2 linked regions of the Homo sapiens genome follow. The protein of the gene in region 1 binds, or shares a complex with, the protein of each later gene. Each region holds a gene or a part of one and is shown on either strand. Other genes may lie near its edges. A codon is read from its position in the direction of its gene.

Region 1 (15,558 bases):
ATCAGGGACCCTGCAGGAAGGAGAAAGCCTGTTAGTGAGGAAGGTTGTTGGAAACGGGCAGGGGCTGCAGACCACAGGCCCGCGGGAGGGGTGGTCTGTCCATGTGGTGGCACTTCTCATAGATTTTCTTTGTTTCTTTTTTTCATATTGAGGGAAAATTTGCCATTTCTGCACTGTCCTGGGACAAACGGAACCTACTACTCACATCTTGCCATTGATGTAGCTGACTTTCTGTCCTTTTGACAGTTATATCATGTTTCTGACAGGCACAAGTGGGTTCTTTCTTTGGAACGTCATTGGGGGGTGTGCACTTTGGGTTGTCACGCCTGTACTTGGCTGGGGGGCAGGAGGCAGTAATCACCACGGCACCCCTGCAACTGGTACACTTCAAACATTTCAGACATATGACATTACAATGACCCTCCCACCGCCATGGACCCATCACCCAGATTCAACAGTTATCCAGATGGAGTCACATATGCTTTAGTTATCCCTTTTCTATTTTCCTTGACTGCAGTATTTTAAAGCAAATCCCGAACATCACGTCATTGTACTCCTACATCCTTTGATATGCAGGATGACCCACTTGTGAGTACTAGGGAGCTCATATCTCGCCCCTGGGTGTCTCATCGGTGGTTAGGCATCTCTAGGGCGCCAAGTCCTCCCAGTGGATGGGGCTGGGCCAGGCGGGTTAAGGGGGAGAGGTCTCTGACTCAGCCTGCCTCATGCTGTGACCAGATTTAGAGACCTGAGACCAGATTTAGAGACCAATAAATATTGCATGAATATTTGAGAATGAATAAATGAAACAATGGTCACCTTCAGCAGCATGTCTGTGCACCAGGAGGGGGGTGGGCTGTTGCAGTTGGTACCTCCCCACCAATGCCCTACCTCCTGAAATTCCCAGATCACACCCTGCATCCTGTGTCTCATGTAAATTCCTTCCATTTCAATCCCAGCTGGCTTCTATTCTGCACTCTGGGGCTCCTCTTTACATCTGTCCACATCTGTCAGGAGGCTTAGAGTAGAGGCCTCCTGACACCAGACTGAGCCCTGACAATGGAATCCAAGTGGTGCAGGGTATCCTTGGGTGCAGTGAGGGAAAAGGCATGCAGGCCGACTCTCGTGAAGCCTGCAGTCCATGCAGGGAAGCTGAGCTGCCACCCCCAAGACAAGCCTGGCTGGTGGTGGCAGGCAGTGTGTGGAGATGAGATGGTGCTGGGGAAGAGGCAGCCAGGCAGGGTACTTGTGCAATGTCCAGTACAGGCCTGTGCAGATACAGCATCTGAGGCCAGAGATAATGAATAACAGTCTCTCTCCCCCTGCACACCATCTGATTTGCCTGCATCTAGATCCCTGTCCCTCGAGCCCCATTGCCATCTACCCAGGAATTCCCACCACTTGCTCACAGTTTCCATAGAGCCTCCCATTGGCTGCTCACACCCCAATCATACCCCTGGCAGCTCCCCCTTCCCCTCTGCCTCTGCCTCCAACATCCCCACGCTCTGTTCCTTCCTTGGCTCCTTGGTTTTTGTGAGTCCTCCTCTGCTTGCACACAATTTCCAAGTGTTCAGCCTCCTCTTGGGCCAAAAGTGGGTGGGTTTGGCCTTAGGGCCCTCTTCCCCCAGGCTTCTGAGCCTGCAGTTCTCCCCACTCACACCCAGACATACCCACCCCCTCCACACACACACACATAAACACATATTCTCCAAGCCTGCACCCTCCTTCCCTCTTTCCCCAAGAAAAATTGCCAGGCCCATGAGGACCCCGCTGTTGACTTGGGTCATTTGGTTAACTAGCCACACTTCCGTGCCAACTTATCCCTTAAATTCATAACCTATGAGAATTAAAAGAAGAATTATCTTAGCACTTTGGAGCAGTAAGTATGGATGGAACAAGGGGGCTGCTTCTGTCTGACTGTCATAGAGCTACCCTCTTGGCGCCATCTGTGAGGGGGCTGGGGCTGGAGAGGGAAAGGAAGGAAAGACCTTCACTAAGCTCCCCACTGCAGCTGCTTCAGCCTCTGCCTTGAGTTCTGGGGTCCCCACAAGGCTCACCCTGATCACTGAGGGCGGATCTGAATGATGCTGATAAGGAGCAGGGGAAGGACCTAGGGGCCTTGTGAAGTGAACCAAGTCAACACTTGGCTCTCACCTCTGCACCTTCGACTGCTGGGGGTGCAGAAGGGATGGGGCAGTGGTGCAGGCCATTGTAGCTCAGGGTGGTGGCAGACATGGAGAAGAGAAGCATGGTGCCAGGAGGGGGAGGGCATCATCTCCAGGTGCTCAGATTGTGAGTGTCTGGCAGTCAGAAAGGGAGGGCTAGAGGCCATATGTCAGGATGGGGAGCAGGGTTGGTGGCTCTGGCCAGGAAGATGTCTAGACTCTAGGTCTGCAGAGAAGAACCACTCTGAGCTGACTGAACCCCCAGCCGGGCCCTGGAGAGCAGCCCCAGGCTTCTTGCATCCCTCCCATTGCGTTGGGGACTCATTGTCCTCAGCATCACCGAGATCTGCTGGCTCCTCCCGCACTCTGAGCCCGTCACCCACCTGTTTCCTACTTTTGATTCTGAGTCTGGCTCACCATCAGATAAGCTGACATCTGAAACCCTGGCTTTATGCTGTCCAAAGGAACAAATTAGAGGCTGTTGATTCTCATCACTGCAGAAGTCTTGACTGTAAAAAAGAATTCCCCTTTAGAAATGGAGGCCAGCCCTAATGCACTTAAATATTTTCTTCCAGCTCATTTGCTACGTAAAAGGAGGCTGGAGCAATCCTCCAAACAATCTCGAGCCTAGAGAGATTGGAGCCATTGCCTGCTGAAGTGCCATCAGCCACGAAGCTACAACATCTCCACGCTGAGAACCACAGTCAGGGGGAGGACAGGATTTGACTTTCATGCTATCTGAACTCCAACCCTGCCAATGCACAAAGAGGTACTTGCGACTTTTCAGGAACATGCCAGTCTCATCAGGAATGACGCACCTGTTTTTCCTCTCTCAGTCTGGCCTGTCTTGTGATGACTTTAAAAGCCCAAACGTATGCTCCGGTGGGGACCCTGCTGGCAATGCCCCTCCACTGCTCTGTGGTCCTGCATGTGTCTCTTTGTCTGCCCAGCCCCCCATCCCAGTCGCCTTCTCCAGGGCCCTGTGCTGTCTCCAGTGCCAGCTTTGCTGCCCTGGGATACATCATGCTCTGTCTGGTGGCCCTCTGCTTCCCTTGCCTTAGTTCTTTGCGAGGAGAGGCCTGGCTCAGGTTACACGGGTGCTTAGTGCTGAGGACTGGGGATGGAGTAGAGATGCCCTTCCCTGAGCAGGAGGGGTACAGTAGGCTCTCCTCACACTCCCACTGTGACTGCAGGCTTTGAGCTGGGCCTGCGGAGGGGGAGGAGAAGGGGAAAAAGAGGGGTGCTCAGAGACCGAGGGACACTTGGCCCTGGACCAGGAGTTCTCAGACTCACAAGAGCAAAGTGTATCCCAGGTCAGGAGGCAGTGGAGGAGTGTACGTGGTGGTAGCGGGGTGATGAGAGGCAGCGTGGAGAGGGGTCGGGGGTGGACATTTCAAGTCAGGACAGACTGTGGAGAGGAGGAAGTGTGGTTTTCAGGCTGGAACTTTGACTGGGGACTCTGGCTGGGGACAGCATGCCAGTCCGGGCCAAGGACAAAGTGGTTCTGGGATTCCTGCTTCTAACCCAGGACAGGAGCCAGCGGGAGCAGGACATGTGTACCTGGACCCTTGGCTGGTGGCCACTTCCAGGGACATGCCCTTCCTTGGCTCCAGGAGAAGTCAGGGAGTAGAGAAGTCAGTGAGAGCCCTGAAAGTTTCCAGCACGAGGCTTGAGCAAAATGTGAGGGCAACGAATTTATCCAAATCACAGTGGACAGATGACCTAATGAAGACGGGGGAATTAAAGCACGAAGTGGCAGGCTCTGGACCAGCCACATGGTGTTCGGGCATCCTGGCTGACTTCCCTTCCCTTGAAACCAGCTCTCTCCCCTTTGCTAGTACTGTCCCAATGGCTGGGACCCAGGAGGGTCTGAGTGGTTGTCTATTGGCCAGGGGTCTCCCCACAGCCTCTGGGGGGAGCACCAAGTGTGCAGATCCAGGAGCCCTACCTTCCTCTGGAACACTCTCTGCACCCAGTCTTCTTCTTCCCTGAAGGCACCACCCTGGACTATTTGCCTGTGGTGGTATTGTGCAAGTGTCATGCCTTGCCAATGACACCAGATGGTAGGCTCCCTGAGGATAGGCTGGTATGGTGTATCATTCGTATCTTACATTCGTATCTTTTGCTCCCTCTGTTACCTGCCTGACAGGAGTTTCTGTGGAAAAAGCCTACCCACTTCTTACTGTGGTGGTGGCTCACTTCGTGTTCAGGTCTTGAATAGAGAAATCACCGGCCAGCTACCTGGAGGCAGGAGGTGCCAGCCCCAACCACTGCACCTTTCTGAGAAGCCAGGCAGTGTTCCCAGAGCCACAGCAGGGCCAAAAAGCAAGAGCAGAGAAAGGAGGTGGCCTGCGATGAGAGGCAGGCAGAGCTGGCTGGGCCCCTCGGAGGCTCCTGGGCTGCATGCCATCCTCCTGTTCTGGAGGGTTTGGAACCACTTAGGGCCCTGTGCCCTTGCCCCAGGAAACTCACTGCCCTGCCTTCTCCTTCTTTCTGCTCCCACCTCCCTGTGACTCCAGCCATGGTCCTGGCGTTAGTCCACCTGGTCTTGGCCTTCCCCTTGTGTGGTGCCAGGCAGGCAGCAATGACAGCCAGATCATAGGACTGTGGCAGCTGGAGGTGGGAGCTGGCAGCCCCAGGAGACATTGACACAGAGGACAGGCAGCCTGGGATGGGGCTGCTGGGGCGTGGTTGGGGACCAGGCTAGGGGCGGACATGGGCACTAGTGCCAAGTATTGGCAGGTGAGGGCAAAAGGACTCCCCTTTCCTGAGCTGCAGGGAGGGGTCGGGTCAGGTGCTGTGCTTCCTCCTTTGGTGCCTAGCGGCAGGGAGACTAAAGTGAAGCATGTCCGTGCCTGGGACAGAAAGGAAGGCTGGAGCCAGGATGTAAGAGAACCAAGTCTCTGGGGGTGGGATGGAGGCTATGGGGAGGGCATCCTGTGCAGGGGAGGAGACCAGCCAGGACCTTGGGGTTAGGGAGGAGAAGACCAGCCCAGCCCGGCTGGGCCCGGCCCTGCCTGGGGGAGGCTGCCTCTGCTCACACATGCAGGCCGAAAGGAGCAACAGCTGGGCTCCATGCCGCCACCCCCTCCGCGCACTCCTGCCTATGCAACAAGTGTCACGTCTGCATGTTGGCACATCATCCCCGGTTTCCCGCGCCCCTGGACTGGCGGGAGGCTCCCAGCCTTCAGGGACCAGAAGACGTTCAACATGGGAGCCCAGCCCACTCGACTCTGGTCAGTTCCTTCCATCGATCCACGAGGGAGCGGGCATGTCCCCCGCCTCCACCTCTACCACGCGGGGTGCAGGGCGTGGGACACGCGGCGCACACCTGTGGTCCTGAGCTCCTGGGACTGCGAGCGACGGTTAGGAGGGACAAGGTGACGGGCAGGTGATGCCAAAGGCCGAGTTGAGCCCCGCAAAAGAAGCAGTCCTTGTGGCCAGCCGCCCCATGGCTCGGGGCGCTCTGTCAATCTGCTGCCTGGCGCTGGCCGGCGCGTGGCTGCTACTGCACGGCTCGCGCCGGGCTCCCCGGGAGGCGGGGAGAGTGCGAATAGGGCGGAGGGAAAGGAGCACGCCGGCTGCAGCCCGGGCGAGCGGGAGGGCGCGCACTCACCTCCACACACCGCGGTCAAGGAGAGCCAGAGCAGCAGGAGCGCCTGCACGCAGAGCCGCAGATTCATGCTGCTCCTTGGGCCGCCGCGGCCCCGGCGAGCCGGCGCGGGGGAGGAGAGGTCGGGCGCCCGGAGGCCAAGAAAGGCGCGAGCCGCGGCTGGCGCGTGCGGGCGCAGAGCTCGGGAGGCTCCCCGGCCGCTGAGTGTGCGCGCTGAGCCCCGCCGCTCCCGCTGGCCGCCTCCGCTCTTCTGCAGCCTCCTCTCCCGCCGCGGGGCAGCGCCGCGAAGCTGGCCTCGGCGGCTCCGGGAGCGGCAGCGGCGAGCTCTTTCTTAGCGGCTGGCTGCTCGGCCGCGGCTGCAACTGCCCGTGACCCCGGCTGCCAGAGAGAATGCTCCCCGCTCACTCCAGGGGCTGCATTTTGTAGCTTGTGGCTTGGCCGCGAGCCCACTTGGTCATGTGGTCATCGGGAGGGCTAGAGGGGGGGCAGGAAGAGGGAGAGGGAGCGAGCCTCCCGCACCGCCCCCCTCCAGGCACGCACTCTGCAGCCCCAGCCCGAGCGTGAGCGCGAGAGGGAACCCCGAGGTGGCCCCACAACAAAGGCTGCGCGGCCTCTCTGACAACCTACAACCGCTCCCCGGACAATGCCCGCCTGGCCGGGGGCCAGAGGGTTTGCAGAGACCTGAAGGATTTCAAACACAGGAAGCATTTGGGGCGGTGGAGGGGCACACTTAACCCTTTCTCACCTTGCTTCCTTAACAGCTGTCAGGAAACCTGGGCGCTTAGGGAAGGACTCAGTCTGGGTTGCCTTCACTCACGCCCTCTACCTCTGACCCTGGTCCTTGCCCTTGCCGCTGGCCAGCTTCAAGGGTTTGGTCAAGACAACCAAACACTGGCCCTCCTCTCTCCTCTGCATTTTCAACTGGCTTTGAATTGGGGGTGACTGCCTAGGCTTGTGCCCAAGGCTTGATTAATTGCCCAGGCCCCTCATGTTCCCTGCATCCCCCAGGAGGCACCCTCTACCTGGAATGCCCCCACCCCACCCTTCCGTGAGCAATTCATTCTTTGCAGCAGCACCTCAAATCCCATCGCATCCAGAAGCCTTCTCAGGATAACACTAATCCAGCAGGGGCCGCCCATCAGCTCCTCCCCACTGTTGGGACATGGGACAGCTCCTATGGTCTACCCTTTCTTGTTCCCTGGAGCTGTCCTCATTCTAGTTCCCCATCAACGTAAGAGGCAGGTGGTTTACCCAACTCCACACAGTCAAGGCTGGATTCATTTTGCGTGTACTTGCGATTCCGCTTTAGAAGCGGGTCCTGAAGTTGTTTGCCTTTCCAGACTCGATTGTTAGCTGCTTCTATAGCTTGGGAGCTCCCAAGGCATGGGGCTGCTTCCCTCATTGGACTGGGAACCCCCTAAGGTAGGATACTGTCTTCTCACTCTTCTGGATCTCTCCAAAGTCCCCAATATCTTGCTCTGCACATAGGTGGCACTCAACACATATTAAAAGACTGAATCGAAAGGTGTCTCCACCTTTCAGCAAGCCAGGCAGTTTGCTTGAAGTGTTAAGTCCAGATTTACACAAAAGATACATTGGACAGGGTGCGTGTGTGCCATAAAAGACATGAGAGACCATGGCATATTTAAAATATCTTTGAAATGTTGCAAAAATCCTATATATACACAATGTATTTATTATCAGTCTCTCTCCACCAGAAGGGTTACCTCCACAAGGGAGGGATCTTTGCTTTGTTCACAGCTGTGTCCCCAGACCTAGAACAGTACCTGCGACATGACTGGTACTCAATACATAATTTTGAATATATAAATGAAATTTTCAAAAACATCTTTACTGCCTAAATTCAGGTAGCAGGAAGGGAATAAGATAAGGTTCTCATTAATAGCCTATGGCCCATTAACCACACTCAAGTAAAAAAAAAAAGCATGTGAAGCATGGCACCCCTCTTCATCCTTGAGACCCAGGATATGAGTAGCAGACATGGGTAGCAGGAGACCATTCTCCCTTCACTGTTCCCCTGGAAAGAGTTTGCTTTCTTTCTCTTTTCTTTTTCTTTTTTTCTTTTTTCTTTCTTTCTTCTTTTTTTTTTTTTTTTTTTTGAGACCGAGTTTTGCTCTGTCGCTCAAGCTGGAGTGCAATACCCTATCTCAGCTCACTGCAACCTCCGCCTCCCAGGTTCAAGCGATTCTCCTGCCTCAGCCTCCTGAGTAGCTGGGATTACAGGCATGCGCCACCATGCCCGACTAATTTTGTATTTTTAGTAGAGACGGGGTTTCACCAGGTTGGTCAGGCTGGTCTCGAACTCCTGACCTCAGATGATCCACCCGCCTCGGCCTCCCAAAGTGTTGGGATTACAGGCGTTAGCCACCACGCCTGGATGGAAAGCATTTTCTAACCAGGAGGAGAAACACCTGGCTTCTAGTCTCCACCCTCATTTGCTGTAGGGCCTTGCCATCATCACCTAAACTTACTGGGGTTCATGGAGGTGATAATCTCTGCTCTACCCACTTCAAAGTTGTTATGGGATTAAGTGAGATAATGTGCCTGAAGGTACCGTGCAAATTAAGAATAAGCTCTTGCAGGGTTGTTTTTAGGAAACTTGGTGCTCCAATCCTTGATTGGGCAAGCCCATGCACACCCAAATAAGTGTCCCCCATAACTAGGTTAATAGAAGCCTTCATATTTAATTGCACCTTTACTAGGGTGTGTATGGCATATTGCTAAGTGGTTGGAACACATAGCGCTTTCTAATACAATAGCCACTAATCATATTTCCAATGAAGTTTAAAATTCAGTTCCTCAGTTCCACTGGCCACGCTTCAATTGCCTATATGTGGCTAGTGGCTACTGTATTGGACAGCACAGAATAGAATCTTCAATCACTGCAGAAAGTTCTATTGGTTAGAGCATTCATTCATTCTTCTTTTTTCTATAATCCATTTTCCCACCCTACCTAGCCTTCAAAATGTACAAGGTGAGGGGAAAAAAAGCATAAAAGCAAACCAATAGAAATTCAAGCCAAGCTGAAGGCATGCGTTTAGAGTAAGATTTAAAGATCTGACACTTGGGAGAATCATTTTTTAATTGAATCCTTCTCTTCATTTAACCAAATTACATCCATTTTTTTTTAGAGGCAGGGTCTTGCTCTGTTACCCTAGGCTGAAGTGCAGTAGTGCAATCACAGCCCAATGCAGGCTCAAACTTCTAGGCTCAAGTGATCCTCCCACCTCAGCCTCCCAAGTAGCTGGGACTACAGACATGCACCACCATACCAGGCTAATTTTTAAATTTATTTATATTTTTTGTAGAGACTGAGTCTTACTATGTTTCTCAGGCTGGTCTTAAACTCCTGGTCTCAAGCAATCCTCCCATCTCGGCCTCCCAAAGTGCTGGGATTACAAGTGTGAGTCACCATGCCTGGCCACATCTGTTTTCGTAGTCCCAGATCCAAGATTTCATCTTTCTTTCTCAGGACACCCTTGCCCACAGTGACTTTGCCCTCTCCATAACAGCTATGGCTGTACCTGTCATTGGTAGGTCCTCTCACAGTGCATCAGGAACACTTTTGCATCTGCACACTGTGCTCTACGGGCCTGCTGTAATTCTGCAGAGAGGACCCATCACCACCATATCCATTCAGGGGTCAAGGCCCATGAGGCAAGGAACGCAGCTCTGATTGCCCACTCTGAACCCCTTGTAGGCTCCCAGATATCTTAATATCAGATTGAAATGACCAGTTTTCGAATATCTGTATCTATTTGCCAGACTTTAAGGTCACTGCTGTGATAGCACCTAGCACAATGCCTGGCACATAATTGATACTTCATAACTGCCTGTCAGGTGAGCAACTGTCGGCCCAACACTGTGCTGTCTTTTGTTCAGGATACTATTGAATGAATATCAGCAGGATAAATGTTTTAAGGCATAAGTCTCCAATCCCTGGGCCATGGACCACTATGGCTCCCTGTTCTATTAGGAACCAGGCCTCACAGCAGGAGGTGAGCAGCAGATGGGCCAGCGAAGCATCATCTGTATTTACAGCCGCTCTCCATTGCTCCCATTACCACCTGAGCTCCACCTTCTGTCAGATCAGCAGTGGCGTTACATTGTCATAGGAGCACGAACCCTATTGTAAACTGCATGTGTGAGGGATCTAGGTTGCATGTTCTTTATGAGAATCTAATGCCTGATGATCTGTCACTGTCTCTCATCACCCCCAGATGGGACCATCTAGTTGTAGGAAAACAAACTCAGGGCTCCCACTGATTCTACATTGTGGTGAGTTGTAGCATTATTTCATTATATATTACAAAAAAAAAATAGAAATAAAGTGCACAATAAATATAATGCACTTGAGTCATCCTGAAACCATCCCTCCTAACCCTAGTCCATGGAAAAGTTGTCTTTCATGAAACCAATCCCTGATGCCAAAAATGTGGGGACCACTGTTTCAAGGTATTTCTCTGGAGATGGGAAGGAGGTACATGAAACTGTCCACACTCTCCTGCCCTGAGGCAGCAAGTAGCTGTAAAATTTCTGGAAATGTTGCTGCATTTGGGGCTCAGGACCTGTGGTCAGCAGCAAGACTCAGTTTCCAGTCAAGGTGAGGGACAATCCTGGGGGCAAGGGTAGGACTCAGTGCATTGTTGGGGACAGAAGTGAGATAGCTGACCTATGTGAGTTCAAAGTGTGACTTGCCCCCCTCATCAGAGCTATCCACATGCTATTCAGTTCTGCTTATTGTCCTATGTCACCACCAGCCACTGCTGTTCAGTTGACTCATCCACGTCTCTTGTGGGTTAAAGTGAACAGTGTGAGGCATTAAAAAGAACTCAGCTTTTGGAGTTTCACATAACTGAATTCAAATCCTGCCCCTCAACCCCATTCGTTAGCTGTGTGACCTTGGGCAAGTTATTCAGCTTCTCTGAGGCTCAGTTTTTTCCTCTGTTAAATGAGGATAATAATGGTACCTAATTTTTTAAGTGCTAAGGTTTGAATGTATGTGTCCCTCCAAAATTCATATGTTTAATTTTTTTGTTTTTGTTTTTGGAGATGGAGTTTCACTCTTGTTGCCCAGGCTATAGTGCAATGGTACGATCTTGGCTCACCGTAACCTCTGCCTCCCGGGTTCAAGTGATTCCCCTGCCTCAGCCTCCAGAGTAGCTGGGATTACACGCATGTGCCACCACATCCGGCTAATTTTTTATATTTTTAGTAGAGATGGGGTTTCTCCATGTTGGTCAGGCTGGTCTCAAACTCCTGACCTCAGGTGATCCCCCCGCCTTGGCCTCCCAAAGTGCTGTGATTACAGGCGTGAGCCACCACGCCTGGCCTCATATGTTGAAATTAAAAGCCCAAGGTGATGTGTTAAGAGGAAGGGCCTTTTGAGATTGATTAAGTCATGAGGGTTCCACCCTCATGAATTAATTAGTGCTCTTATAAAAGAAGTTGGAAGGGGCACCCTAGTTCCCTTTTTGCCCTTCTGTCCCTTATGTCATATGAGGACACAGTGTTTGAACGCTCCAGAGGAAGCAGCATTCAAGACACCATCTAGTAAGCACAGACTGGGCCCTCATCAGACACAGAAACTGCCAGCACCTTGATCTCAGACTTCCCAGCCTCCAGAACTGTAAGAAATAAATTTGGATTATTTATAATTATCCAGTCTCGAGTATTCTGTTATAGCAACAGGAATGGACAAAGACATTATGGTTGGGAGATTAAATGAGATAATGTGTGTAAAATACTTAGCACAGTCCCCTGCTCATTGGATGTTAGTTTTCTCCTCTTCCTGACCTGCTTCTCCCCCCACCTTTGGGTCTATCCTCTGGCCTTCTGAAACTGATCAGGAAGAAAGGGCTCTGATATGGTTTGGATCTGTGTCCCCACCAAATCTCCTGTAGAATTATAATCCCAAGTGTTGGAGGTGGTGTCTGGTGGGAGGTGACTGGATCATGGGGGCAGAGTTCTCATGAGACTGGGTAATTTATAAAGAAAAGAGTTTTAATTGACTCACGGTTCCACATGGCTGGGGAGGCCTCAGGAGACTTGCAATTATGGTGGAAGCCAAAGGGGAAGCCAGGCACATCTTACAAGGCAGCAGGAGAAAGAGAGAGGGAGGGGGAACTGCCAAACACTTTTAAACCATCAGATCTTATGAGAACTCACTCACTATCATGAGAACAGCATGGGGGAAACGACCCCATGATCAAATCACCTCCCACCAGGTCCCTCCCTCAACATGTGGGGATTACAATTCAAGATGAGATTTGGGTGGGGACACAGAACCAAACTATATCACTGCCTAACCTCAAAGCCCACACTCTTTCCTCACTGAACATCAAGAAGCAGTTTCTCGGGAGGCTGAGGCCGGGGAATGGCGTGAACCCAGGAGGCGGAGCTTGCAGTGAGCCGAGATCGCGCCACTGCACTCCAGACTGGGTGACAGAGTGAGACTCTGTCTCCAAAAAAAAAAAAGAAGCAGTTTCTCACTTTTTGGGTCCACCTATCACTTTATTTGAACTTCTAGCACCTAACTCATACTGTCTTGAATTAGGAAGCCATGAAGTACATAGTGGTTAAGCACATGGGTTCTAGAATAAGGCAGCTCTGTCTCTTACTACATAGGTAACTTTGAGCAAATTATTAACCTTTCTGAGCCTTAGGTGCCTCATCAGAAAAAAGGGCTAGCACCTAGCTCCCATTGTTACTGAAAGGATTAAAAGAATCAATACCTATAAAGTACTCGGCACTGAGTTTGGTTCTTATAGTAAGGGAAGCATTGTGTAAATGTTACATATTCCCATGGGTATTTGTATATATCTCTGACTTATATGAGATAGTAACACTATGTCTTATTCGTTTTTATATTCTCACCAGCAGTGCTGTTGCCCAAAGCAAATACTCAATAAATGTTTGTTGAATGAAAGAAGGAATTGTATATTCTTGTTAATAATTGCTCTAGGTTTATGATCCATATCAAGTGTCTCTATTTGGGCAAAATCATCACAACTTGTCCAACTGGTTCTTAGATGGGTCAACACTAACAGCTAACAGACATACACAAAGATGTGACCATCTTCCCTCTCCTCATTGTGTAGTAGTTGTTTTTACTGGATCAATGCAAAAAGTGGAGTGGGGAGAGGACATCTGAAGAAGGATGACCCTGGCCAGCAATCAGAGAGATTTCATAACAGCAAGAGCCCCAACCCCCTCATTATGCAGATGGAGAAACTGAGGTCCAGAAAGGAAAAGTGACTTACCCAAAGCTACACAGAAAGCTGGTGGCAAAGTCAGGACGGAGCCTAGGTTCAACTAAATCCCAACTCCTATTTTTCCTTCTGTGTCTTCCCAGCATAGAAGTAGCGCTCACTGGCCAAGCAGTCCCCTAGCTGGCTGCATAGGCACAACAAAATGACTGTGGTTAGGCACAGGATTCTCATTCCATAGGCCAGCGCTTTTGGAGCATCTCAGAATGAGTCTTCCCATTGTCACTCATCTAATTTGTTCCTTAAGACATAAGCTAAATTAATGAGCAAAAGAAGTTCAGTAGCAGCAACATCGGGAAAAAGTATTTAAGAAGAACTTCAAAGCTTACCCTGCCTCTGAAGCTACTTAACAGGAACTTGGGGGAAAAAAGCATGGGCCAGCTGCTAGTTGATGCCTCACTAACTAGCTTCATGACAAATTATCTTTGCTCAGTTAACCACCACAAGAGAACATGAATTTTTCACTCTCTCATTACTGAGTATTTGTCTTTCTGATACTAACGGCTAGAGTTGAGCTTTCTAACTCATCTATAACCACCAGAGCAGCCAGCACAATGCTTGCCATAGAGTAGTAGATGCTTAAGCCATATTCATGGGTTCACTTTCCCATTCTGGGTGTGAGACCATTTAAATCAGAGACATGATGTTCATTATGTGAAACTTAGCCTGGAACTTATTCTGTGAATCAAAAGATCCTAATAATCATTTTGAGGGAATAATCTCTTTGTTGGACTTTGCTGGGGTTTCTTCTTCAGCTAACTGTGTGATTCTTGTCTTGATGTCCAATACCTCTTAATTCTGATCACCAGCTAGGTCCTAAGCCTGGCCACAGACCGAGATCTTGTCTTTCACACTTGCCCTCTTCCCAAGCACACAGAGTCAAATACTAACCATCACACGGTATCAGGTTTGCAAAAATTAGAGAAGTAGCCATTTTGCAGCATAACCACATTATCTCTATTCACATCTCAAGTGTTTAATACTATATTCAAGTCACTACATGCTAATTCCTTCCATGGGACACCTTTCAGCCACTGCCACATGGGCTCCAACTGCCCTGGAAATGCTTATTCCATTTCTCTGTTTCTTCCAACTTCTTTGCAAACTACATACCTTCTCAGATCGTCTGATATATTCAAGGAACACCAGGGGTTCCCACAGATACGCCTTCCTTGACACAACACCCAAGTTCCTGAAAAATGTTGTCAGTGGAATTCAGATAATCAGCTATATTTCAAATGTCTTTGAAGGGTTCACAGTTTATTAGCTGAATAAGTCCTAAGAGAGATTCTCTGAGGTGAAGAACTGTTCCTCTGTTCCTGCCCCCAGCCCAGCCCAGCTCCACAGAATTACCCCCTTTTCCCTACATCCTGCTTCATTCCTTCTGATCCTCTCCCATAGCCACACAGGTCCCCATTCCTCCTGTTTGTCTTTCAGAGCAGTTTCATTTCCTCTGCATATCCTCTATGACGTCTCCCAGGAGCCTCCATCCTTCCTCTCCCCTACGGTCTATAAATACCCTGGTCTCCCAGGGGAGGCATGTGAATTCCTTCCTTACGCAGCAAGGCCCTGTGAGTTAGGATAGCCACTCCCAAAGGAGCAGGTTTATCTCCAAAGTCCATTGAACCTTTCTTCCTCTTGCTTTGCTGGTTAATATTATCTGGGCTTATATCATGTAAGATATTATATGTCTCAAATCTGGCACCTTTGTTTGCAGAGCCAGGGCAAAGACTGTTGAGGACACGGTATTGAGTCTATGACCAGTTCCGTTATGGGCTTAGAGTTCTGGGATAATAAGGTCAAAGTCAGAGAGATAATGAGGTCAGCTTTGTTCTATCCCAAACTCAAGTTTGGATTGACACCAGTCACTACCTGAATCCTAACCATGGCCACAGACTGAGATCTTTTGAGGTTCTTACTTTTTGACTTTCATACATTTCCCATACACATAAAGAGAGAGTCAAATATTGTACTAAAATTTAAAAGGTAACACTTCTGGAGAAAAAAGAAAGAAAACTAGCCATCTTACAGCAAAACTCCATGTGTTAATTTCTCAGGGCTGCTATGACAGATTACCACAAACTTCGTGGCTTAAAACAACAGTTTATTTCTTCTCACTTCTGGAAGCCAGAAATCTGAAATCAAGAAAGCTCTAGGGTGAGAAGTTTATGATAAATTAGTGAAGTGATAGATGTGTAAATTAGTTTGATTGAATCTTTCTACAATGTATGCATAGATCAAAACCTCACATTGTACCCTATAAACATGCACAATTATCATTTGTCAATTAAAAATAAATAAAGATAAAATGAAAGTGTAAGGGAGGATTCTTCCTTGCCTCTTTCATCCCCTGGTGGCTCCAGGCATTCTTTGACTTAGGGCTGCATCCCTCCAATCTCTGCCTCCATCTTCATCTTCACATGACCTGACCCTTTTGTCTATGTGATATCCTTCTGCCTCTCTAGGGTCTCACTCTGTTGCCCAGGCTGGA
Region 2 (16,283 bases), on another chromosome or scaffold:
CATCCTCCCATTGTCAGTGCTGATATATATCTCATTAATGTAGACTCACTGTAAATATTTTTAGAAACACCATGTTGCTCTCCTGAAGGCTGGCAGGGCTGGGTGTGAGCCGGCCTGGTCCTGTCAGCCTCTTCCTGACCTCCTTCCTGCCTCTGCTGTACTTCCTGTCTTCACGGCCTCCTGCCCAAGTCCCTCCTCTCAGCCAAACAAAGACTTCCTCTGCACCTAACCTTTGGGGGTGGGAGGAGAAGACAGGGTGGCATAGGGACACCTGGACAAAACCCTTTGGCTCTCCCTCCCTTGCTTTCCCCATGGGTAAGGTCAAGTGTGTGGAGCAGATCGCAGCCACAACCTTTCGGCATCAAAGACTGTCTCGCTTGCTTTCCTGTTCTCCCCACAGTGAATCCTTTTTAAGGAAGGAGTCTGTTGATCTAACCCACCTTGTTTATGAAATCGTAATGAATTCATCTGCTCAGTTTTTATTCATCAAAGGCATGATGAGCAGCATGGAGTAACCAGAGTCCCCACACTAATTTATTAAAGTCTAAGCTCGCGGTGCTGGTGCTTGACATTTAAAGAGGGTTGTCTTATGATAGGGTGAGAAGAATGTGCCATTTCCACAAGATTTCATGAAATGCTGATGCTGGCCCAAGCTACTGCCTCTCTCCCCATTTCTATCATCAAGGGTCTCTGATGTCAGCGTGGGAATCAATGGGCTAATAAAATTTTAGGCATCTTTCCTGTTCTAAGTCATGGGAACCCAGTGCCCCATCCAGATTGTCCTAAGAAAGTTCTTTCTTTCTTTTCTTTTCTTTTCTTTTTTTTTTGAGACAGAGTTTTACTCTTGTTGCCCAGGCTGGAGTGCAATGCTGTGATCTTGGCTCGTAGCAAATTCTCCTGTCTTAGCCTCCTGAGTAGCTGGGATTACAGGTGCCCACCACCACGCCCAGCTAATTTTTTGTATTTTTAGTAGAGACAGAGTTTCACCATGTTAGCCAGGCTGGTATCGAACTCCTGATCTCAGGTGATCCACCTGCCTCGGCCTCCCAAAGTGCTGGGTTACAGGGGTGAGCCACCAGGCCCAGCCCCTAAGAAAGTTCTGATTACTCCAGAGGTTATAGAAATGGGGGTCCTACAATTCCAGTGCATATATTAGAGGGCACTATGTATGGGGCGCTGTGCCAAGTAATGGGGGGATGGGTGGGTAATGGTAGGTAAAAGGGTGACAGGAGGTGGGTGGGAGATAAGGAAAGGCTTCCAGACCCCTGATTCTCACAGTCTAACAAATAGCCCGTCAAAGTGGGCTTGGTGCTGTAGTGGGGAGAATGGATTCTCATGTGATCTTGCCATTCATCAACAAGAGGGTCAGTTTGTCTCCCACTTTTGATCTTTTTGGCAAGAAACCCACTTCTCCAATCACATCTGGAAGCCATAGCCATAATTCCCAGAATCACAGAAAGCTAAACCCGGCTGGCCCAATGTCCTCATGTACAGATAGGGAAACTGCCCCACAGAGAGGGGCAAAAGCCTTGCCCAGGGTACAAAGCAAGCTAGTTATTGGAGTTCAGGTAAGATATCAGTGACTCCTAAGAAACCTCCCCGATCTATACTATCTGAAAATGCCAGTTTCCATTTACTCGCTGCATCACTCTCCAGTTTATCTTTCCTTGTAGTGCTTATCATTACCTGAGTTCACTGCATTTATCTAACTTTCATCGTTTTGTCTCTCTTCCACCTCTAGAATGAAAGTGCAGGAAACCGAGGGCATAGTTTGAATTGCTCACACTGTATGGCAAGTGCCTCAAATAGAGCCTGGCACATAGTAGTTGCTCAAATTTTTTTTTTTTTTGAGATGGAGTCTCGCTCTTGTTGCCCAGGCAGGAGTGCAGTGGCGCGATCTCGGCTCACTACAACGTCTGCCTCCTAGGTTCCAGTGGTTCTCCTTATTCAGCCTCCCAGGTAGCTGGGATTACAGGCGCCCGCGACCATGTCCGGCTGATATTTGTATTTTTAGTAGAGACGGAGTTTCCCCATGTTGGCCAAGCTGGTCTCGAACTCCGTACCTCAGGTGATCCACCCACCTAGGCCTCCCAAAGTGCTGGGATTACAGGCGTGAGCCACCGTGCCCGGCCAGTAGTTGCTCAATATTTTCTGAGTGAATGAATTAGGATGGGATTAGAACAAGAGGGTCAGTTTGTCTCCCACTTTTGATCTTTTTGGCAAGAAACCCACTTCTCCAACCATATTTGGAAGCCATAGCCGTAATTCCCAGAATCACAGAAAGCTAGAACCAGGCCAGTGGGTGAGTTTTCTTGCTGTCCCCAGAGACCAGGGAGTTTTGGGAGTTTGCAGTATGGCCTTAGAGTTTGAAATAGCACCAAATGGTGGGGTTGGGGGTGGAGAGAGTTGCTGAGGGGGTTTCTGTTTTAATTATCAGAAAGCGGCTGACCATTTGTTTTTGGTCAGATAAGCTGCTAAAGTCGGGCGTGTGTGTGTGTGTGTGTGTGTGTGTGTGTGTGTGCGCGTGCGCGCGCGCACGCGCGCGTGCCTAGGGTGGGGGTTGGGGGTGTTGTGTGCTAGAGAAAGGAGAGGTGAAATTCCTCAGTGTGGGCTGGGCAGTCAAGTTATATCCCTCCTGTGTCCCTGCCCTCCCTTCCCCTTTCCCTCAGATAACACCACCAGCTGTTAGGGACACAGCTGTGGCTGCCTCTCGGGAAGGAGAGAAAAAGGCCCTGTTGCCCTGGGTGAGTTCCCAAGCTGTGGAGTTCAAAGCAGACCTGTGAAGTGAGGGGGCTGGAGCAGAGAGCTAGGAGGGAGGAGGTGAGAAGTCAGGAAGAGCACAGAAAGGCAGTACTTCCACTTTGATGTCCCCAGCCCACAGCTTTGGGTAGGGTCTGGGTGAGGTCCCAGCAGAGGGGTTCAGCTTTCCCCCTTCATCCCAAACTCTTAGAGAGATCCAATTAAGCACCCGTCCCTGTACTGCAAGCAGTGTGTTTATTCAGATCTCTGATCCCACTACACACAAGCAAGCACACTCTTCTACGCACCTGATGTACATTCCTTGGGTGAATGTGTGCATTCAGTGCACGCTCATGCCTACAACACACAAACATGCATACTCTTCTATACACGTTAATGCATGAACCCAATGCACATCATAGCCCACTATGCACAAGCAAGCACACTGTTCTACATGCATGAATGCATGCACCCAATGCACATCCTACCTCACTATGCACAAGCAAGCACACTATTCTACATCCATGAATGCATGCACCCAGTGCACACTCATATCCCCCTGCACACACAAGTTCAGCCTGCTCACAAGCACCTACAGACTTCACATCCAAGTGACCTCGTGGCACACAGAAAACTTGCATTCACAAAGCACACATAGTCAGCATGTCCATGGGCACAGGCCAAGTCAGGCTCTGCTTTTTAGGCCAGGCACAAACCTGGTGGTGGGGTGGGTGAGGAATATTGAACCACTGACTCCAGAGGTCTCCCAGAAGTCTGGGCTCTCCTCAAAGGGCACTAGCAGGTCTGGAGTGCTTTTCTGCCAGGTGTCATTCATCTCGGTCTCATCACAATGCCCTGAAGAAATCACCCAGGAGAGAGAGGGAAGTTCCCCAGGAAACCTGTGCAGGCCTCTCCAGGGCAGGCCAGCTCTGGGCACCCTGGCCAACAGGCTTGCCTTAGCTATTGGTTTGCCAGATAGCTCAGAGTAGAATTTCCTGGATCACTTTAGCAAAAGTTGCCTTGTTAATGCAGTAGAGCAGCTCTGGGGTGAAGATCCAAGTCTTACACCCTTCTCCTGAGTGTGTTTCTATTGCTTTAATTCAACAGACTTTTACCAGGTGCCAAGTAGGGTGGGGGGCAGAAATGAAAAGAAGATATCTGTCCCAGGCCTTGTATATGTCTAGTCTGTGAGGCCCAGGACCCATATACTTCTGAGCCCCGGGACACACAAGTTTCATCTTCAGCTACTGGTCCTATTTTCCAGTCTTTCTTCTGTGTGGAATGGTGCAATGCGGAACAGGGACAGATCAGATCAGGCAGGATAAGGAGTGAGCTGGCTAATTCTGCTCACTTCAGGCTGTCATTGCAGGGGGCACTCAGGCCATCTGGCTACAGCTGGCTCCTGGTTGGAGGCCGGATCTTATCAGCACTCTACCCTCTCTGGTCCCAAACGGTGGCCTCTTCCCAGCCCTGGCCCCCAATTCCCTCCCCTCTCAATGAGTCTGGTAACTCTAGTGAGATTAACTGCTCTTTACTCCCTCTAGGGCAGACATCCTGGAGGTCGGCAGATGAAAGCGATGGATCCATATCCTTTCCCACAGGGGTCTCCAGGCTCCTGTCTGGCTCAGCATTCCAGTGGGAACAGCTGAGGGGAGGGAGACAGGGACCTGATTTCAGGGACGCTTCAAGCTTGCTAGCTCCCTTCTCTCTGTATTTCTAGCTGCAAAGGGCACAGACATCTGCATCTTTCTGGGAGAATCATGGGAGAACTGGGATCACTAGGCGTCTCAAACTTGGTCTTTATCCTGGAATGTCCCAAGCAGTAATGTTTACTCGTAAAAGGGCCATCTATTATGACCTGACCTGAGCCAAGCTGGTCCCTGCACAACTCCAAGGTCCCCTTTGATAGGTAAAGATAGCTTACCACTGAAGAAGTCTGAGGTAGCCAAAGGTTAGCTATTTCCACCCAGGATATAATGTCAGGATATAATGAAACTATTATATCAGGATATGATGAATGAATCATGATATGATGAATGAATGTCAGGATATAATGAAAACCATTCTGCCATCTGCGCAGAACTTCTATTAGCCAAAAATGCAGGAGCAAGAGGCCCCAAGCAATTCCTACCCTGTGTACTGTGAGATGGATGGAGCCCCAGCTCTGGATCCTATTGGGTGTCCCAGCCCCCACTGTACAGAATGCCAAGATTCCAGGGGCAGAGTCCTGTTAGCTTTCTAGCTGGCACCAGGCAACCAGGAATTCTCTTTGGCAATGGCTAGAGCGAGGGTGGTTTCTGGATCAAGTCTATGGTGCTAACCCTAAGTGTACAGATTATTGCCTGGCAGGATTCTTATACCCTGTCTAATCAATGTGAGGTGTGTCTCTAAATAGTCAATCTATTTAAAATCTCACCCGGTAGAGCTTATTTTAAGGTAAATTACAGGTATCCTGGCATCGCCCTACATTTCTCTAATGCTTAACAGATGACACACCCCTCAGTTTAAAAAGGATTGGGCGTTTTTCTTTGGGAGCATAGTGGTTTAGTCCATGGGCTCGAGACAGCTTTGGTTCAAATTCTGGCTCTGACAATTACTGCTGGGTGATCTTGGCTAAACTGCTTCACCTCTGTGTGCCTCAGTTTCCTCATCTGTAAATTGAGGCTAATGAGAGCACCTGCCTCCTAATGTCATTTTGATGATTAAAAGAGATACTAATAAATATATGTAGAATGTATAAAATGTTTAGAAGACTGCCTGGCACACAATAAGTGGGCAACATGTAGTCCTCATGAGAAACACCAACATATTCATTACTCCACATTGCATTTAGGTGAAGGTCACAGGATCTTTCTAATCTCTCTCTGCAGCCTTCTCTCCTGTATCTCCCCACTGCACTCTAAGGCTTTTTCTATCTTTGCATTTTTTGTTTCCTCCTCCTGCCCCATCCTCTTGGTTCTTCTCCTGCCTTCTATTCTTGGCAAGCTCCTGTTTAAAGAACACAAACTCGGGGGCCAAAGACATGTTTTACTTATCATGGTCTGTGCTTTTTTTTGAAATGAAAATTGATTTCCAAAATTTACAAATATGAAAATTTCTTACAAAAATCCATAATTTGAAATTATCTTGGAAAAATCCTAAGACACAGTCATGCTGGGGTCCAGCTTTCTGCGTGGCAACCAGAGACTAGAGCTGAAGAGGCCTCCCTATGATGGAATGGGCACCCTCCAGTTTGCCACAGTCTTTACCATTCTCTGTTGTCTCAAACTACACTCTTGGCCTGTTTTTTTTTTTTTTTTTTGCAGGTATTTGAGTTTGAGTTCCTTGATCTCTGCATATGATTTTCTGATCCACTCTCCCTCCAGAAAATGGATTCCAGCTTTTGTAGTAACTTAAGACAAATATATATCGTGAGACAGGGTCTTGGCTGTGTTATTCAGGCTAGTCTTGAACTCCTGGGCTCAAGCAGTCTTCCTGCCTTGGCCTCCCAAAGTGCTGGGATTATAGGCATGAGCCACCTTGCCTGGCCAATTCCAGCTTTTGTAAGTCTTTTGCCTTGGAAGTGGCTAAGGCTCAGCTCCTGCTTTTGTTCCATCTCACTATTACCCAACGTCAGGTGGCTTCCCCAACTCTTCAAGGTTGTGGAAAGGGTGCGTATTTTTTAAAAAAAATCTTACGTCGTGCATCTTCCTTCCTTCCTAGAGGTCCTGGAGAGGTGATGAGCTGGGGCAAAGTGAGCGTCTACGGAACTTTCCCCACAGTATCCTCCAGTGACTGAGTCTTTCTCTAGAGACCCCCCTCCTCTAGCTCAACTTCCTGACCCCCTGTGGTCTTACAGAAACCTCTTGGTCCATGGAGGATAGTAAAAACCTGAGAACTGAAATGTATCCATGTTCTCACCACGTAGTAATTCTTACACTTGTTCTTCCATCTATGGATTCCCCTTTTCACTCACCTCCTACATCATCCATCCACTTACTCACTCAACAGCCATTCACCTGGCTGGGCGTGGTGGCTCATGCCTGTAATTTCAGCACTTTGGGAGGCCGAGGTGGGTGGATCATCTGAGGTCAGGAGTTTGAGACTAGCCTGGTCAATCCCCATCTCTACTAAAAATACAAAAAAATTAGCCTGCAATCCCAGCTACTAGGGAGGCTGAGGCGGGAGAATCGCTTGAACCCAGGAGGCAGAAGTTGCAGTGAGCCTAGACCAGCCTGGGCAACAAGAGTGAAACTCTGTCTCAACAAACAAACAAACAAACAAAACAGCCATTCACCTACGACATGCCAGGTACTGTATTATGTTCGTGTTTGGAGAAGAAGAAAAGCAAACAATCAACTGTAGCATAATTCACTTTATTACCTTGGGCAAAACATTGACCTTGTTGGGCCTTTGTTTCCTACAGATTTAATGACTTGTTTAGAGATAATTTTGTCCTGGGTTTCTTCCATCCTGTGACTGCCCTCAACCTTCTAAAGCATCCTGTGCCTTCCGCAAACTGCAAACTGCAGTCTACACTAGTGTAGGGGTATTTCTCTAGAAACCACAAAAGTTCTCAGAGGGAGGGTCAAAGCCAAGGGGTAGAGAAAGATGAAGCGAGAGGCAAAGTGGGAGAAGACCCTCCTGTGACACCTGGTCTGGGTGGGGGCTGGGGGTGCAGGAAGGGAGCCGAGGGGGCCAGACCTGCCTGCCAGGAGGACCTGCCAGATGCCCTGCCCATCCTGCGAAATCTTACACCCTCCTTGCTCCCTACCAGCCCTGGCTCCAGCTCAAGCTGGATTGCAATCTGCATAATGTGTCCCATTTAGATTGGATGGAAGGGGGTGAGAACAGGAGGGCGGAGAGCACTGAGGAGGGAGTGCCCTAAAGGGCAGGCAGGAAGTGGTGGCCAGAGGAAAGTGGAGGGATAGGGGCTGGGGTGAAGGTGGGTGGCAGCCAGAAAGGAGAGGCGGGGCCAGGAAAGCCGACTTGCAAAACCACAGATAATGTTCAGCCCAGCACAGTAGGGGTCAATTTGGTCCACTTGCTCAGTGACAAAAAGAAAAAAAAAGTGGGCTGTCACTAAAGATTTTGACTCACAAGAGAGGGGCTGGTCTGGAGGTGGGAGGAGGGAGTGACGAGTCAAGGAGGAGACAGGGACGCAGGAGGGTGCAAGGAAGTGTCTTAACTGAGACGGGGGTAAGGCAAGAGAGGGTGGAGGAAATTCTGCAGGAGACAGGCTTCCTCCAGGGTCTGGAGAACCCAGAGGCAGCTCCTCCTGAGTGCTGGGAAGGACTCTGGGCATCTTCAGCCCTTCTTACTCTCTGAGGCTCAAGCCAGAAATTCAGGCTGCTTGCAGAGTGGGTGACAGAGCCACGGAGCTGGTGTCCCTGGGACCCTCTGCCCGTCTTCTCTCCACTCCCCAGCATGGAGGAAGGTGGTGATTTTGACAACTACTATGGGGCAGACAACCAGTCTGAGTGTGAGTACACAGACTGGAAATCCTCGGGGGCCCTCATCCCTGCCATCTACATGTTGGTCTTCCTCCTGGGCACCACGGGCAACGGTCTGGTGCTCTGGACCGTGTTTCGGAGCAGCCGGGAGAAGAGGCGCTCAGCTGATATCTTCATTGCTAGCCTGGCGGTGGCTGACCTGACCTTCGTGGTGACGCTGCCCCTGTGGGCTACCTACACGTACCGGGACTATGACTGGCCCTTTGGGACCTTCTTCTGCAAGCTCAGCAGCTACCTCATCTTCGTCAACATGTACGCCAGCGTCTTCTGCCTCACCGGCCTCAGCTTCGACCGCTACCTGGCCATCGTGAGGCCAGTGGCCAATGCTCGGCTGAGGCTGCGGGTCAGCGGGGCCGTGGCCACGGCAGTTCTTTGGGTGCTGGCCGCCCTCCTGGCCATGCCTGTCATGGTGTTACGCACCACCGGGGACTTGGAGAACACCACTAAGGTGCAGTGCTACATGGACTACTCCATGGTGGCCACTGTGAGCTCAGAGTGGGCCTGGGAGGTGGGCCTTGGGGTCTCGTCCACCACCGTGGGCTTTGTGGTGCCCTTCACCATCATGCTGACCTGTTACTTCTTCATCGCCCAAACCATCGCTGGCCACTTCCGCAAGGAACGCATCGAGGGCCTGCGGAAGCGGCGCCGGCTGCTCAGCATCATCGTGGTGCTGGTGGTGACCTTTGCCCTGTGCTGGATGCCCTACCACCTGGTGAAGACGCTGTACATGCTGGGCAGCCTGCTGCACTGGCCCTGTGACTTTGACCTCTTCCTCATGAACATCTTCCCCTACTGCACCTGCATCAGCTACGTCAACAGCTGCCTCAACCCCTTCCTCTATGCCTTTTTCGACCCCCGCTTCCGCCAGGCCTGCACCTCCATGCTCTGCTGTGGCCAGAGCAGGTGCGCAGGCACCTCCCACAGCAGCAGTGGGGAGAAGTCAGCCAGCTACTCTTCGGGGCACAGCCAGGGGCCCGGCCCCAACATGGGCAAGGGTGGAGAACAGATGCACGAGAAATCCATCCCCTACAGCCAGGAGACCCTTGTGGTTGACTAGGGCTGGGAGCAGAGAGAAGCCTGGCGCCCTCGGCCCTCCCCGGCCTTTGCCCTTGCTTTCTGAAAATCAGGTAGTGTGGCTACTCCTTGTCCTATGCACATCCTTTAACTGTCCCCTGATTCTGCCCCGCCCTGTCCTCCTCTACTGCTTTATTCTTTCTCAGAGGTTTGTGGTTTAGGGGAAAGAGACTGGGCTCTACAGACCTGACCCTGCACAAGCCATTTAATCTCACTCAGCCTCAGTTTCTCCATTGGTATGAAATGGGGGAAAGTCATATTGATCCTAAAATGTTGAAGCCTGAGTCTGGACGCAGTAAAAGCTTGTTTCCCTCTGCTGCTTTCTTAGATCTGCAATCGTCTTTCCTCCCTTCTTTCCTTGTAGTTTTTCCCCCACCACTCTCTGCAGCTGCCGCTCCTTATCCCTGCCTTCTGGCACCAATCCCCTCCTACAGCTCGTCCCCCTCCCTCCATCCATCCTTCTCCCCTGTCTACTTTCTTGTTCTGAAGGGCTACTAAGGGTTAAGGATCCCAAAGCTTGCAGAGACTGACCCTGTTTAAGCTTTCTATCCTGTTTTCTGAGTGTGAGGCAGGGAATGGGCTGGGGCCGGGGGTGGGCTGTGTGTCAGCAGATAATTAGTGCTCCAGCCCTTAGATCTGGGAGCTCCAGAGCTTGCCCTAAAATTGGATCACTTCCCTGTCATTTTGGGCATTGGGGCTAGTGTGATTCCTGCAGTTCCCCCATGGCACCATGACACTGACTAGATATGCTTTCTCCAAATTGTCCGCAGACCCTTTCATCCTTCCTCTATTTTCTATGAGAATTGGAAGGCAGCAGGGCTGATGAATGGATGTACTCCTTGGTTTCATTATGTGAGTGGGGAGTTGGGAAGGGCAACTAGAGAGAGAGGATGGAGGGGTGTCTGCATTTAGTCCAGACACTGCTTGGCTCGCTCCCCGAGTCCTCCTGTTTCTGACTTCCTGCATAACTGTGAGCTGAAGGGTTTCCTCATCTCCCCATCTTACCCCATCATACTGATTTCTTTCTTGGGCACTGGTGCTACTTGGTGCCAAGAATCATGTTGTTTGGGATGGAGATGCCTGCCTCTTGTCTGTGTGTGTTGTACTTATATGTCTATATGGATGAGCCTGGCATGAACAGCAGTGTGCCTGGGTCATTTGGACAAACCTCCTCCCACCCCCCAATCCACTGCAACTCTGCTGTTCACACATTACCCTTGGCAGGGGGTGGTGGGGGGCAGGGACACACTGAGGCAATGAAAAATGTAGAATAAAAATGAGTCCACCCCCTACTGGATTTGGGGGCTCCAACGGCTGGTCCGTGCTTTAGGAGCGAAGTTAATGTTTGCACCAGGCTTCCTGTAGGGAGATCCCTCCCCAAAGCAGCTGGCGCCAAGGCTTGGGGGCGTCCTACTGAGCTGGGTTCCTGCTCCTTCTTGGGCTCCATGAAGGAAGTAAGAGGCTAGTTGAGAGCCTCCCTTGGCCCCTTTCCGGTGCCTCCCCGCCTGGCTTCAAATTTATGAGCATTGCCCTCATCGTCCTTTCTTGTTCCAGGGTCAGTGGCCCTCTTCCTAAGGAGGCCTCCTGCTTGCCATGGGCCAAAAGGCACGGGGTGGGTTTTTTCTCTCCCTACCCTCAGGATTGGACCTCTTGGCTTCTGCTGGATTGGGGATCTGGGAATAGGGACTGGAGCAAGTGTGCAGATAGCATGATGTCTACACTGCCAGAGAGACCGTGAGGATGAAATTAATAGTGGGGCCTTTGTGAGCTAGAGGCTGGGAGTGTCTATTCCGGGTTTTGTTCTTGGAGGACTATGAAAGTGAAGGACAAGACATGAGCGATGGAGATAAGAAAAGCCCAGCTTGATGTGAATGGACATCTTGACCCTCCCTGGAATGACGCCAGCTCTGGGGGCAGAGGGAGGAGGAGAGGGGAAGGGGCTCCTCACAGCCTAGTCTCCCCATCTTAAGATAGCATCTTTCACAGAGTCACCTCCTCTGCCCAGAGCTGTCCTCAAAGCATCCAGTGAACACTGGAAGAGGCTTCTAGAAGGGAAGAAATTGTCCCTCTGAGGCCGCCGTGGGTGACCTGCAGAGACTTCCTGCCTGGAACTCATCTGTGAACTGGGACAGAAGCAGAGGAGGCTGCCTGCTGTGATACCCCCTTACCTCCCCCAGTGCCTTCTTCAGAATATCTGCACTGTCTTCTGATCCTGTTAGTCACTGTGGTTCATCAAATAAAACTGTTTGTGCAACTGTTGTGTCCAAAGCCTCTTCTCATGAAAGTGTCTTGGGATAACCTCCAGCTTGCAAATGTTTCAGCATGGTGAGGGGGAAGCCGTAAAGAGAAGTGGGAGCTAAAAGGAGGGGGCGAAGTGAGGAGGGAGAGAGGATGGAGGAAATAGGCATCAGGAAAGGGAAAGGATGGGATTTAGGTGCAGAGAAGAAAAGGAAGAAAAGAAACAGGGGAGCAGCTAAGTGTTGTGCTCTGAAAAGCCACAGAACAAAAGGACACATATTTTGGAGGCCAGAGCATAGGTCTGGGGAAAAATACCAGCATTTCTTCCCATGGAGGTAGACCTATTACTCATCTATCCATCCATCCATCCATCCATCCATCCATCCATCCATCCACCAATCCATCTACTCATTTATGCCTTTATTCATTTACCATCTCCTATTGATTGATTTACTTAATATCACTTGAGTAGCCACTGAGTTTAGACCAGAAGCTTGAATCCCTGTTCTCCAATCAGAGTCGCTCTGGATGCTTTTGAAAATACCCAGTTCCTGGGTATCACCCCAGACCTATGGAGTCAGACTCTCCTTGACTCACCCCAGATATTTACAATTACTAAAAACTCAGATAATTTTTTGGGAAAGCCAGGCTTAGGGAATCTCTATCCAGATGGATTCTGCCCAAATTAAAGTGGGCATAGAAGACCAGAGGGTCAGAACCACAGCCAACTGGGCTTTGGTGGTCATCTATTTGGAGGAGGGGGGAAGGGGCTGAAATGATCCTGGGGTCGGCGTGGTGGTGGGGCTATTCAGTCCAGAGGTATTTGTCATCTTCAATAATGATCTCCTGGGTATTAATAATGTTTGCAGACAATGCAAAAAAATAATAATCATAGTAGAACTGATAGTAACAAGAGAGCTCGCATTTATGGAGTTCTGCCACTGTGCTAAGCATTTCCCAAGCATTATCTCATTTAATCCTTGCAGCCATCCTTTAAGAGGGGGCATTTTCACCTCATTTTGCTCATAAGGAAGCTGAGACTCAGAGAGGTTAGTTAGACCTCTTGACCAAGATCACAGACTAGCAGGTGGAAGAGCTGGGCTTGGAACCAGCTGAATCTGTCTGGCTCCCAAGCCCAAAGCCCACATTCTTGACCATGGTAAGGGGATGTTTCTCCCAAAGTACAAATGAGGCAACACTAGGTGTCTGGGAAGGAAAGTGAGAACTTCTGTGTGAGATGCCTGGCACACAGTGGAGAGTGAATGGGGATGGGGAGGGAAATGATGGAGAGTACCCGAAAGACAGAGACAGGGCAGAGAGGAGAAAGCAGAGGGACAGAGAAAGAAGAGAGAGAGGCGAGATAGTGAAGAGAAAGATAGAGACAAGGGAAGAGAGAGAGGGGGAGAGAGAAAGAGAGAGAGAGACAGAGAGAGAGAAATGAAGTATGGGGAGAGAGAAACAGAGGCAGAGATAGTGAAAGAGAGAGATATAGAAGCAGGGAGAGAGGAATTGAGAGAGAAAAGACAGAGGGAGAGGGAAGAGAGAGTGAATCAGGTAGACAGTGAAAGAGAAAGATAGAGACAAAGGAGGGAGAGAGAGGAGAGACAGGGAGAAAGAGAGAGATTGAGAAGAGAGAGAAACAGAGCAGAGATAGTGAAAAAGATAGAGACAGAGGCAGAGGGAGGGAGAGAGAAGAGAGAAACAGAGGCAAAGATAGTGTAAGAGACAGAGATGGAGGGAGAGAAAGAGAAAAGAGAGACAGAAAGAGAGAGGAAAGAGAAACAGAGGCAGAAATAGTGAAAGAAAAAGACAGAAAGAAGGAGAGGGAGAGAAGAGAGAGGAGAGAGAGATTGAGAGAGAGGGAAGAGAGAGAAACAGGCAGAGAGAGTGAAAGAGAGAGAGAGAGAGAGAGACAGGGACAGTGGGAAGAGAAAGAAACAGAGACAAAGACAGAGACAGAGACCGTGAAAGAGAGGCAGAGTGAGGAGAGAGAAATAGAGACAGAGAGAGACAGAGAGTGAGAACATAGGTGGGAAGAAGAAACGGGGAGGCAGGGAGGGAGACTGAGGGCAGGGAATCAGTGCCTGCTCTCCCTCTTCTGAAACACACCAGGGAAAGCCCTTTGGGAATTTACGACGGCAACAACAGGCTATTGGAGCCACTATTATCATTATTTTTACAGATGCTGTAAAAAACCTCAGCAAGTCTCCTGGGAAATCTGAGGTAAGCTATCCAAAACATGATACGGTTTTAGCCTTCCCTTGGTTGTGACAGCACTTACTAATTCACTGGTTCACACATGCCTTCATTTATTCACCCATTCATTCATCTGTTTGTTCCACAAGTCCTTATTTATCACGTATGTGCCAAGCGCTATGCTGGACGCAGGACCAAATGGTGAGCGGCCTCCAGTGGGCTCGCAGTCGGCTGGTGGAGGCAGACAGTGAAATGGGCGATTACAGCCCAGGGTGGTGAGTTCTAAGGGAATGTGTGAAGTGTTCGAGGGCCTGTCGTGGAGACAATGGAAGGAGTCAGGCAGGGCGTCAGGGGAGACTTTACAGCCACGGTGCCTGCCTGGAGCCTGCTCTGAAGCATGGAGTGTAAGTGGTTAGTGGGGAAAATGTTCTGGGCAGAGGAATTGCCCACGGAGAACACAGCCCCTCTGAGGAACTGGAACGAACACTCATCCTTGTTTTTACTCACCCCCACTCCAACTCTGGGAGGTTGGCCAGTTAGAGGCACAGAGAAAATCTTGCCCAGTTCTCATGGCGTGGATGCCGAGAATACTGGGGGCTGGGACTAAAATCCAGGAATCCAGGTCTCTAGACAATTGGGGTTGTGCAGGGCTTTTTTTTTTTCTTTTTTTCTTTTCTTTTTTATTCTTTTTGTCACTTCCAGTTTCTTCCCTCCCTGGGTTTGAGCTATCTTCCTCTAAGTTATCTGCCAGGGTCTCCTAACTAGGGGTTGGGAGGCCCAGGCCCTTTCAGTCTGAGCTTGTTAAAAAGAGGCAGATAGATTCCGTGGGAAGATCCTCCCCAACTTCAGAAGCCAGGATGACCCCCAGCGCAATAAGCTTTAGATGTGACACACCTCCCTACCGTCTCAGCAGACACCACTGTCTGCATTCCAAGGAGTTCAACACTTGCAGGGCCTGATCTGGGAGGGCCAGCTCTTCTCAATCATTGCACAAATGCTTATAAAGTCTCCATGCACGACGTTGGAGACAGACACAAAGATGTGACCCAGGGAGCTTGAAATCAAATACACAAGAAAGGAGGTTCTGAGATGCTGAGCTCACTCTAGAAGTTTCCATTTCTAGTTAGAGTGTTGGAGTATCAGAGCAATGCTCATTTATTTATTCATTGAATCCTTTTTTGTTTTTCAGTGTCTGTCTTGTGCCTGGGACTGTCTTAGAAGCTGGAGATGCTGCCGTGAATGAGACACACCATCCCTGCCTTCATGGACCGACTAGAAGCACCTTCTAGTCTTACTTTCTCATTGAACAGAGGGGTAAACTGAGGCTTATGGTTGGGAGGGGGAAATGATTGACACATGGTCATATAGTGGGATGGTGGCAGAAGTGGGACTAGATCTCAGGTTCCTCACTGCCAGGCAAGAGCGTGTTCTGTGACTCTAGGCTTAGAAAGGAGAGGAAGTCTCTTATTGAGAACACACAGGGCAAGTGGAGAGTCAGATCCATGATGAGCCACCAACTGGGAAGTAGGAGGGCACAAAGGTGCTTGAGGATCATTCGAGGTTTTGTTAATAAACCTTTTGTTTCAGAAGAGTTTTAGATTTACAGAAAAGTTGCTGATAGAATACAGAGAGTCCTCATATATTCCACACCCAGTTTCCTTTATTATTAGCATTTTAGATTAGCAGGACATGCTTGCCACAATTAATGAACCCTATTGATACCTCACTATGAACTGAAGTCCACTATGAACTGAAGTCCAACCCTATTGATACCTCACTATGAACTGAAGTTCAGACTTCCTTACTTTTTAGCTCATGTTCTTTCTCTGTTCCAGGATCTCATGCAGAATACCACATCACATTTAGTCATCATGTCTCAGACTTCTCTTGGCTGTGACAGTTTCACAGGCTTTGTTTTTGATGACCTTGACGGTTTGGAGGAACATTGCTCAGGTATTTTGTCCCATGTAGAAATATCTTTCTATGTCCATATATCAGGCACATGCTTGGTGATGAGATGAAGCAATACAAGATATACATGTGATTCCTGCTCTTTTGGAGTTTAACAATCAATAATAAAGTGCAGTAAGCATATTGCGGAGGAAGTACAGGATGCAGTGGGGACAAACACCCATATTCTGGTCTGCACCACAGAGGGGTCCCAAGACAGGGCTAGTGTGCTGGCTCAATGCACAGGCCCACGTTCAATTCCACAGGGGTATAAATGTCTGACATTCTCCTACTTCCAAAGCCACCTTAGGGTGCATTTTCTTGCCTAAATAACTAGAAACCTGAGGACATGAGACAAAGGACTATTTGTGCTCAGTGAGCATCTCCCCGAATATTGTTCTGTACTTTATTATTTAGTTATATGGCACATCTCTTGCTACTTGAGGCAGCTTCTTACATGGACAGTGGATAATCAGAAATGGATTCCCCAAACCTACTTGAAGCACCCCACTTGGCCAGCACCCTAGTACTCCCAGCCCCTTGTCCCCTGCGCACAGGGAACAGGTCTCTAGAAAAGCCCAGATCTGGCCACTC

The links.
Region 2: the proteins of APLN (region 1) and APLNR are in contact, whole or in part, in a cryo-EM structure (PDB 8XZG), measured with the Homo sapiens proteins. Residues at the interface, in NP_059109.3 of Homo sapiens: Arg66, Pro67, Arg68, Leu69, Ser70, His71, Lys72, Gly73, Pro74, Met75, Pro76, Phe77; in NP_005152.1 of Homo sapiens: Tyr35 (codon at 8,248), Phe78 (codon at 8,377), Trp85 (codon at 8,398), Tyr88 (codon at 8,407), Thr89 (codon at 8,410), Tyr93 (codon at 8,422), Ser106 (codon at 8,461), Ile109 (codon at 8,470), Phe110 (codon at 8,473), Met113 (codon at 8,482), Pro163 (codon at 8,632), Val164 (codon at 8,635), Arg168 (codon at 8,647), Gln180 (codon at 8,683), Cys181 (codon at 8,686), Tyr182 (codon at 8,689), Met183 (codon at 8,692), Tyr185 (codon at 8,698), Glu194 (codon at 8,725), Glu198 (codon at 8,737), Leu201 (codon at 8,746), Gly202 (codon at 8,749), Ser205 (codon at 8,758), Tyr264 (codon at 8,935), Lys268 (codon at 8,947), Tyr271 (codon at 8,956), Ser275 (codon at 8,968), Cys281 (codon at 8,986), Asp284 (codon at 8,995), Leu285 (codon at 8,998).

The regions. Positions count from the first base shown.
Region 1 is NC_000023.11:129,648,783-129,664,340, forward strand, and holds the start of APLN (apelin preproprotein), read right to left. Parts: upstream 6,175-15,558; 5' UTR 5,849-6,174; coding exon 5,782-5,848; intron 11-5,781; coding exon 1-10. UniProt on the Homo sapiens protein: Peptide hormone that functions as endogenous ligand for the G-protein-coupled apelin receptor (APLNR/APJ), that plays a role in cadiovascular homeostasis. Functions as a balanced agonist activating both G(i) protein pathway and beta-arrestin pathway of APLNR.
Region 2 is NC_000011.10:57,228,867-57,245,149, reverse strand, and holds APLNR (apelin receptor), read left to right. Parts: upstream 1-7,899; 5' UTR 7,900-8,145; coding exon 8,146-9,288; 3' UTR 9,289-11,559; downstream 11,560-16,283. UniProt on the Homo sapiens protein: G protein-coupled receptor for peptide hormones apelin (APLN) and apelin receptor early endogenous ligand (APELA/ELA), that plays a role in the regulation of normal cardiovascular function and fluid homeostasis.